Linked DNA regions of Homo sapiens: region 2 is linked to region 1. The links come from fine-mapping of genetic effects on gene expression. A gene starts in region 1. The other region holds a variant in brackets. All regions are shown on one strand. Distances are from middle to middle.

Region 1 (5,000 bases):
TTCCTGATGTATAAAAGCAAGAGAAATGGCTGCCAGCCACCCTGTGCTGGAAGGCAGAAGCCTCAAGTTCTGGTTCTGACTTTGCCATTGAGTTGCTGTGTGACCTTAGGCAATCCCTCCTCATCTCTGGGCCTTAGTTTCTTTTGGGAATAAATAACGGAATTGAGTTGAGCCTATGTATTAGTCTACTTAGGCTGCCAGAAGAAAATATCACAGACTGGGTGGCTTAAACAACAGAAATCAATTTAAGATCGTGAGACAGCATTAATCTCACGGGGTTATTTTGAGAACTGAGATCCTGCATACAAAACTCTCGGCATAGTGTTTGCCACACAGTAAGCTCTCAGTAAATATTTGTCAATGAATGTATGAAGGAATAAAAGTGGAAAATGCAAATAAGTGAAACACTGACAAGATTACAGCCAGGAAATGGCTGTTGTAATTCTAATTAGATATATAGACTTCCAGTATTTTCCTATGCAAATAAAGACATATGTTACTACCAAAACGGGACCATATTATACCTATCTAGATTTTCAAAAATATTTCATTATTTTATTGAAATATAAGTCACATGTCATAAAGTTTACCTTTTTAAAGTGTACAATCTAGTGGTGTTTAGTATATTCCCAAAGTTGCACTAACATCATCACTATTTAATCCCAGGACATTTTTACCACCCCCAAGATAAAACTCATGCCCATTAGCAGTCACTCCTCATCCCCGTCTCTTTCCCCTTCCCCAGACCCTGTCAAACACTTTCTGTCTCCATGGATTTGACTATTTTGGAAATTACATATAAAAAGCATCATACGACATGTGGCCTTTTGTGGCTGGCTTCTTTCCTTTACCATGATGTTTTCCAGCTTCATCCACGTTGTAGCATGTTCTTCTTATGGCTGGATGATATGCCTCTGCACGCATACACCACACTTCATTTACACATTCATCAGGTCATGGACATGCGGGTTGTGCCCACTTTTTGACTAGGATGAATGACACTGCTCTTTGTGTACAAGCTTTTGTGTGGACATGCTTTCAGTTCTCTTCGGTAGACACCTAGGAGGGGAATTGCTGGGTCATATGGAAACTCTGTGTTGAACTTTTTGAGGAACTGCCTACACCGCACAACAGTTTATAACCTATTATTTTCTCCTTTCACAACGCATCCTGTCTTCATTGTTAATAAATAGCTGTGCACATCACTATTTTGAGTGAATACATCGTATTTCCTTAGCCAGCGGTACCACAGTGTGTTTAGTGAATTCCCTATTGTTGGACATTTAATAATCCCATGAAAGAGGCTTTGAGTGACTTCCTTGTGTCCCCAGCAGCTTGTAAATGACAGTTTTCCAGGTGTGCCCAGAGCACTCTGTATCCCCTTAATTTGGTGATTTCACATTGCCTTGACATCACCCCTACTGCTCCTCCACCCCATCTGTCTTGTCTACAATGGTGAGCCCCTTGAGAAGCTGAACCATGTCTTGAATTGGTCTTTGTATCCATTATACATGGCCAGGTGCCAAGCATTTTGGTAAATGTTCACAAAATGGATGGGTACTTGGATGGATGGATGATAACAGCCAGGGACTATGGGGGGACGGAGTTCATTTTTACATTCTGTCCAAAAATCCCTGCTTTGGAAAGTAGTGAGTTCTCTGACACCGATGGTGTGTGACAGGAGGCTGGACCAGTTGGCAGGATATTGTGAAGCTAATTCAGGCCTCAGAAAGGGGACTCGATGAAATTTAAGATCGCTTCCAAGCTTGAGAGCCTGGAAAGCTATGAAAACACAAGCCCTGGGAGCTGAGATATGTCCTAACTTACCCAGCTGAGCTGTGAGGTGTGAGTGGCTCTAACATTTTCCAGTTGTTTCTGAGGACCTCAGATCAAAGCTTCCCTTTGCCTAAAAGCATCTGCCTGCTGGTGTGGGCCCTTGGGGGCCGTCACAGTGCACTGAGGTTAGAGTCCTGCAAGGGTGAACCCTTATGTAACAAGTAGTTGGGCAAGTTTACAGCTCTCTGTAATCTGACAGTAGAGTCCAGACTGGTTTGATGAAAGAGGGTAAACTGTGGGTGGGCGTGGCCTGAGGCCCCACTAGAAGCCCAGGGAGATCTGAGGAAAGGGAGGGCTTTTCTGATCTCTCCCAATTAGAGGATTAGGCAATTGGCAGCGCAGGGCGGTAACTCTGGGCGGGGCTGGGCTCCAGGGCTGGACAGCACAGTCCCTCTGAACTGCACAGAGACCTCGCAGGCCCCGAGAACTGTCGCCCTTCCACGATGTGGCTCCGTGCCTTTATCCTGGCCACTCTCTCTGCTTCCGCGGCTTGGGGTGAGTCCTTCTGAAATCAAAATGCGGGGCACTTTTTGAAATCCTTGTTCTGGGCCGAGGTGGGCGCAGATGCGTAGAAAGGCAAAGACACAACAGGTCCGGCTCTGCGGCGGGGCACGACTTCCATATTAGGACTTGGACTTGGAGCAGCTGAGCCCGGCCAGCCTGGCCCGCGCGGAGACGCAGGGAGGGTGAACATCCTGAGATCGCCCTGTACTGCTCGCCCAAATGCAGGCCGACAGCCGGCCCACCTCAGGCCGCACACACGAGAAATTTAGGCAGCTCAGTTTGCTGTCCCTTAATTAGTCCCCTTACGGCTGGATCACGGAGAGCGGCTCAACATAATATTAAGAGCATCGACTCTGGAGCCAGAGTGCGTGGGTTCGAGTCCCCGCTGGGCGCTTCCTCGCTGTGTGTCCTTAGGCAAGGGACTGCGCTATTCCGTGCTTGGGTTACCCCCTCTCTGAAACAGAGGTGGCAGTGCTGCCTACCTCACTGGGCTTTGGTGAGGAGGAAATGGGTGGCTGTTTCTAAAGCACTCTTGGCAGCGCCTGGTATGTAGAAAGCACGAAAAAGGGATGGATAAATAAAGGCGCTGTTTAAAAACGTAGTGTATGAATAGAAAATTTGAGCTGTGGTCAGGCCACTATATCAGGACCTCTTGCCATTAAAAAGACAGTTTCTTACTCATGTTCTCAACAGGAGGGGGACACCAGTGCGCGGGGCACAAGGGGAAGCAGCAGAGCCTGGGGAGGGGACAGGGCGGATCTGAGGCCAAGGGGCTTTTACTGTGGCTTCCAAGGATAGAAGAGGAAAGGCAGGGCAGGCAGGCTGAGGACTGGCAAGTTGGGATACTTCAGGGGCTCTGGGGCACAGGGGCTGTTCCTAATTGTTTTGTACCTAGCCCTGGCATGATTAGGGCAGGTGGGTAGTGGCCAGGGCATGGCAACCCGATCAAAGAGGCAGTTGGGGTGTGGGCTCTGGGGTGGCTGGACCCTGGGAGGGAGTTTCTCCAAGGTCAACAAGGCCTCAGATGCCAGAGCATCAGAATACAGAAAGCAAAACACATGGTACATAGAGGGGTGCAGCGAGGGGCCTCGAAATACCCCCATGCCATTTTATAGACAGAGAAACTGAGACTCACACAGGGAAATGTACTTGCCCAGGGTCAACCCGAAAATCACGCCTAGGTCTGTCTCTGGGTCCTGAATCCTGACAGCCCAGCCCCGTCTGCATCCTGTCTTCCTTCTGGCAGCCTGACACTGCGAGAGCTCTGGAACTGTGGGGAAGGGCAGAGAAGAGAGGAAGCCTATTTGGAACTGAATGTTCCTTTACCTCTGGTTACTCCTGGCAATGCCATCCATTTCCTTCCTTAGGAAGACCATACAGGCTGCCTCCACTTCCTCAGTTTCCTCCTCTGTAAAATGGGCATGTTGATGCCTACCCAGCAAGGCTTATTTGAAGATTAATTTAAAAAACTGGAATGCATGCCTGGCACATAGTAGGTGCCCACCATGTTCGTGCTTCATATAACATCAGCAGCAACTGGTCTTGTTCTCACACTTGTTTCTGCCTCCCCCCATTCACCCACTTTTTCACCCTTGGCAATCTGGCTGCCATCCACCTCATCCTGTTGAAGGGAATCCCTGAGCTGAGCATGACCAGCCCAGTGGTTTCTTCTCTGACTTGACTCTCCTCCACCTCCCTGAAGTCCTCAGCACTCTTAGCTGGTTCCTCGCCCTCTTGCTCCCTGGGCTTCAAAGACATGGGAACGTTCTCTCTCCCCTATTCTGATGGATCTTTGGTCTTGGCCGTAGTGGTCCCTGTGTTTGACCTTTGTTTTTTTTTCTCTTCCCTCTCACACTGGCATCTTCAATGAAGCCATACACATCCACCGTATGTACCCTCACAGTCCAGGAGAAGATTCTGCCCTGCTCCCTCACCAGGCTTCCTTCCAGCTTTGAAGTGCGCTCATCCTGTGGCATCATCTTGCCTGGATATCCCACTCACATCTCCACCGAGCCTGTGTAAACAGGGATCCAGCATTACAAGCCAGCTCTTTGGTCTTCTTTCCCTTCCATTTCCCCCACCTCTGGTCAGGGACCAAGTCTTTTCTTTTCCTTTCTTTTCTTTCCCTCCCTCCCTCACTCCCACTTGCCTGCCTGCCTGCCTGCCTGCCTGCCTTCCTTCCTTCCTTCCTTCCTTCCTTCCTTCCTTCCTTCCTTCCTTCTTTCCTTCCTTCCTTCTTTCCTTCCTTCCTTCCATCCTTCCATCTTTCCTTTCCTTCTTTCCTTCTTCTCTCTCTCTGGAGGAGCCAGGATTACAGGCACATGCTACCACACCCAGCTAATTTTTCTATTTTCAGTAGAGAGGGGGTTTCACCATGTTGGCCAGGCTGGTCTTGAACTCCTGACCTCAAATGATCTGCCTGCCTTGGCCTCCCAAAGTGCTGGGATTACAGGTGATCCACTGTGCCTGGTCTCCAAGTCTTTCAAAATACCTTTTAGACATCATCATATTTCTACATATTTTTTCTTTTTTTATTTAAAATTTTAAAATAATTAAGATGGGGGGGAGGATTTCAGGTGAAGACCGGAAATCCCATACAGTGCTGAAAAGGTGGAAATCACCAAGAAAACAGGCCACATGTAATGCCACCACCCATTGCT
Region 2 (5,000 bases), 28 kb before region 1:
TTAAGCAACTTGTCCGAGGTTACCTAGGTAGAAAGTGAAGGAGCTAGAAATCACATGCCTGAACATTTGACATCAAAGTCCATGAAGAACCAGGGGCTCAGAGAGGTTGAGTAACTTGCCCAAACCTTCACAGCTAGTCCTTTAACCCCTAAACCAGGGCTTTTTTCCCCTCTAAGCTTAGAGCTTTTAAGGAGGCTTCCTGGGAAGGTTTCTTTGAAGAGGGATGAATGGTATGTGTGTTGGTGGGGAGTAACCTTTCCTGGGTCTTCTGTGTTCTCTCTCCAGATACTGTCTCCCATGGCCAAAGGCTTATTCCACAAAGCCATCATGGAGAGTGGGGTGGCCATCATCCCTTACCTGGAGGCCCATGATTATGAGAAGAGTGAGGACGTACGTATACTGTTAACACCTTGCCACCTTCCTCTCCTCAGTTAGCAGAGAATGTGGTCAGGCACCTTCTCACCATGTGTTTGGCTTTCCTTAGTGACCATGCCCAAGGCACCTCATGCTGGCCCAAGGTGAACCTTGTTCCTCCGTGAAAGGTCTGGTTCAACAGGAAATGGGTCTAGCTACACAATGCCACACCACTGGTGTGCACAAGTGTGTGTGTATGTGCGTTATGGTTCTTATGTCTTACCCGTTATTCTTTGCTTGTGATAGATAAGTCAGTCCCCTGTATTCTATACAGTTCTTCTGTGCCTACGCTACTCTACTGGGAATGAATACCCAGGGCATTATGTTAAGAAAGATTCAGAGGCTGTTTCCAGCTCAGTGGGAAATAATGCTGTGACTGATTCACGTTGTCTGGCATGGGATTATAAGGGGCATCTATCCCACGATATTTGTCATCTGTCTCTTGTCTTAATTATCTACTAGATAGTGATGCCCTAGAGACCAGGATCTCTCTGTCCTTCAGGCCCCCAGCATAATACCTGGTATATATCAGGCAGCCATAAGTGTTCCGGATGAATGAGTTAATGAATGAGCTGTTTCATTCAATGCATATTAATTAAGCACTGGGCTGTGCAGCCATCTCTTGAGTATAAATCATTTTTGTGGTAAATTTTCTTAAACATCTTACAGAAAATAACAGTATATACCAAGAGCAGAAACATAGAGTTATGCAATTTAAAAAAATTCCCTCAATACACAGAAATATTGATTTTGGTAACATTCTCCATAAAGCTATTTTCAGTTTGGGCATATATTTATTCATTTGACACACATCACTGAGTGCCCACTATTTTCCCTGCTCTGTTAGAACTTTGGGATTTATCAGTGGAGAAAGCACATCCTAAATTTGAGGGCAATATAATCTTTTTATCACCTATCCATGGATAGGATTAAATCCTGCAATCCATGGATAGGTTTGGGAAGCGGTTCCACAACTGTACCAGACTCCACATGCTTGCACGTTTTCCCAGGGAGAGGGTCTGTAACTTTGACTGGATTCTCAGAGTATCCATGACTCCCAGAAGATTAAGAACCACCACTTTCAGGGAGTGAGTTCTACAAATATGGAGGTTCAGTGACAAGGAAAGCAGATGTTCAGCAATGGGCCAGGCATGGAAGGTGGGGAACATCGAGCTTATAGGAGATTGGATGAGGAAGGGGTTTCTGGGGGCTGCAATGCCCTGAAAGGACATCGTGGAGGGAAGGAGTTGGGCCTTAAAGAATGAAAAGGATTGGTATAGAGGCAGGGAAAAAGACAGGTAGGACATTCCAGGCTGTGAGTGGGCCTGGGGCTTGGGCAGGGCTGACAAGCTGAGAATCTGATCTGGAGTCCTGCCTGTACTGACAATGAAGGAGCTTCCAAAGCTGCTCCTCACTCTTGGTGTTTGTCTTCATTCAGCACCTCAAGGTTGGGCTTCTAGACTCCAGAGGGGCAAAATACCAATGCAGCCAAGCTCACAGGACTGATCTCTTTGTGACCAGGAATCTTGATTCCATTCCACAGCCACAGACTGACAAACTCCCATCTCCAGCTGTGGTGTTTACTAAAGATGACAAGGAGAGCCAGGCAAGAGACTGAGGGTGATGCAGTGGGAAACTGTCCACCATGTGCACCTTCAATTATAGGGGTGTGGGTCTAGGCAGTGTTAGCAGGATGGACTCATATATGGAGGGCCAGCCTGTGGCTGATTGGAGGGCATTTTCAAGCTTTCATTTTCCTAGATGCTTTCAATATCATGCTCTAACCCGGTCCTTCTCTACAAAATAGCTGCAGGTGGTTGCACATTTCTGTGGTAACAATGCGTCAGACTCTGAGGCCCTGCTGAGGTGCCTGAGGACAAAACCCTCCAAGGAGCTGCTGACCCTCAGCCAGGTGAGGACAGAGGGGGCAGTTTTGGGGGCAGGCTTGCCCTTCGAACGGAGAGATGAACAAATCCTACCCCTCTGTTATTTATTTGAATTTGGAACATAGAAAAGAGGAGGATTGAGGTACTTGGTAACAGCTGTAAAAAAATAAGTAGGGATATAGAACCCTTGTAGGTAATTTAAGAAAATTGTTGGGGCAGGGGTTCAACTTAGCCTGGAGAAGATTCAGCAAAGTACAAGGCTTG[T/C]CTCTAAGTCCCTGAAAGCATCTCACTGGAGAGAAGGACCACACTTGTTATGCATGCTTCCAGAAGCTGAAGTCAAAATCAGGAGCTGGAAGTTCTATTAGGAAGTCATTTTAGTTTTGTGTAACTGAAAACCTTCCAAGACCTCAGTTGTCTGGAAAAGGACTGGGCTCCTTTAGAAGGTAGTGAGATGCCCACCTCTCCAGGTATTCAAGCAAAATCTAGCTGACTGCTGACAAACTTTCAATCAGTGACAGTTAATTGGACCGGGTGATCTTTTATGTCCCTTCCAATCTTGAGAGCCTTTGATGACAGTCTTTGAATGGACAAGATCATTATCTTTCAGATTTCAATATTTGCTAGTTATGTGGTGTGTACTGAATGTCCACTCTGAGCCATGCTAGACTCAGTGAAATGGATAATAAGTCCTGGACCTGATGTGTCGAACTCTTCCATGTGCTCCTTTCTACCCAAATCTCAAAACAGAAACCTAAAGAAACCATGACTAGGGCTGAGTGTTGCTTTCTGAGACCCAAAAAATATCCAGGCATGTCCAAGGCACTGTGTCTCAGGGAGACACCTACAGTCTCCTACAACCCCTACAGTCCTGACCACTTCATCTACCACCATTTTTCCCTTTGCATTTGGCCAGTGGTTCTCAAACTTAAACATGCATCAGGATCACCTGGAGGACCAGCTACAAGAAGGTTCCTGGGCTATACACCCCAACCCCAGAGTTTCTTATTGAGGAGCCTGAAGTGGGCCTGGAATGTGCATTTATAACAAGTTCCCAGATGATGCTGATGCTGCTGGTCTAGGAACCACACTTTGAGAATCTCTGGGCTAGGCTATATTAGTCTCTTCTCATGCTGCTAATAAAGACATACCTGAGACTGGGTAATTTATAAAGGAAAGAGGTTTAATAAACTCACAGTTCCACATGGCTGGGGAGGTCTCACAATCATGGTAGAGGGTGAAGGAAGAGCAAAGGCACATCTTACATGGTGGTGGGCAAAAAAAAAGCTTGTTCAGGGGAGCTCCCCTTTATAAAACCATCAGATCTCATGAGATTTATTCACTATCATGCAAATAGCATGGGAAAGACCTGCCCCCATGATTCAATTACCTCTCACCAGGTCCCTGCCACAACATGTGGGAATTATGGGAGCTATAATTTGAGATTTGGGTGGGGACACAGCCAAACCATATAACAGGCCACTGTTTTTCTTGGTAGATATTATTATTATTCCCATTTAGCAGATGAGAAAATAAGGCACAGACAAGTTTAGCCCCCTCACCCAAGTACATGGCAGAGCTTCCAGGGACTGATATATTGAGCTGGGCCCATAGTGTTTGTTTTTACTTTTTAAGTGCATTTAAGCCAGTGCTAGACTGGGTTGGCTTTTCTTGGCCAGGATTTGGGACAGCAGATTTTGTGAACAGAAATAGCTGATGATAGCTGATGATTTTTTTTTCTTCCTTATTACAGAAAACAAAGTCTTTCACTCGAGTGGTTGATGGTGCTTTCTTTCCTAATGAGCCTCTAGATCTATTGTCTCAGAAAGCATTTAAAGCAATTCCTTCCATCATCGGAGTCAATAACCACGAGTGTGGCTTCCTGCTGCCTATGGTAAGAATTCTGGCTGTCCATACTGCCACTCCCTCAAACCGTGATGCAGCTTTGGCTTCAACAGCTGGGCATTTCCACAGAAGACATCAGGTATTGTAAGTGCTGGAGCCCACCAGCCAAGCACACAGTGATCACCTTTACTCTCTCTGAAAGAGGGCAAGTGAGGACCGGGACAGTCACAGCAAGTGTCTGCCTTGCTTCTCATGTAATGAGGTTTAGGGCGGAAGAAACAACTGTATAAAAAGGAAAGAGGGGATCGGTCCATTTGGTCTTTGTTCAAACAGTATTATAAATGATTGTTTCCAAAAAATGCAGTTACCACTTCAGAGCTGACATTCAGATAGGTTTGAAAAACTTCAGTCCTTCAAATTTTTCACATCCAGCCTTGGTTCTGGCATTTTGACATCCCTGAATGCTAAGGTTGCATAAGCTGCAAAATTGTTAAATCATTTTATTTTTTCAACAAGTATGTACTGAGCATTTATTAGAGGCTTACAAAAACTGAGCATATGAGCTTTCTGGGAGCTTACACTCTGGTGGGGAGAGACAGATAAGACACGAGATTGAGAAGATGATTTCAGAGAGTGATAGATATATGAAGGACACAAGTGAGGAGAGAAGGTATCTTTAGGGAGGATAACAGGTGGTCAGGAAACGCTCTTCTAGGGAGTGATTGTTGAGCTGAGGCCCAGGTGCTGGGAAAGACCCATGATTTTTTGATTCCGTGGCATAGGAAGACTCTCTTCATTGGAAATAAACTTTTCATCTGTCCTCAGAGGAGTGGAGACTTCAAATTCCTAATACTGTTG

What was found. PIP is the estimated chance that this variant, and not a neighbour inherited with it, causes the effect.
Region 2: its variant is the best candidate, but not a certain one, in a credible set for the expression of CES1 in whole blood (TOPMed, PIP 0.52).

What each region holds. Positions count from the first base shown.
Region 1 is chr16:55,830,335-55,835,334 of GRCh38, reverse strand. CES1 (carboxylesterase 1) reads left to right here and starts at 2,239. Exons shown (of 14, transcript NM_001025195.2): 1 at 2,239-2,331. The coding sequence starts at 2,280.
Region 2 is chr16:55,858,738-55,863,737 of GRCh38, reverse strand. It overlaps CES5A (carboxylesterase 5A), which reads left to right. Exons shown (of 13, transcript NM_001143685.2): 6 at 286-390; 7 at 2,222-2,326; 8 at 4,051-4,191. Among named protein-coding and RNA genes, the nearest start is that of CES5A, 14 kb to the left of the region's middle. The variant T/C (reference allele first, on the strand shown) is at 2,565.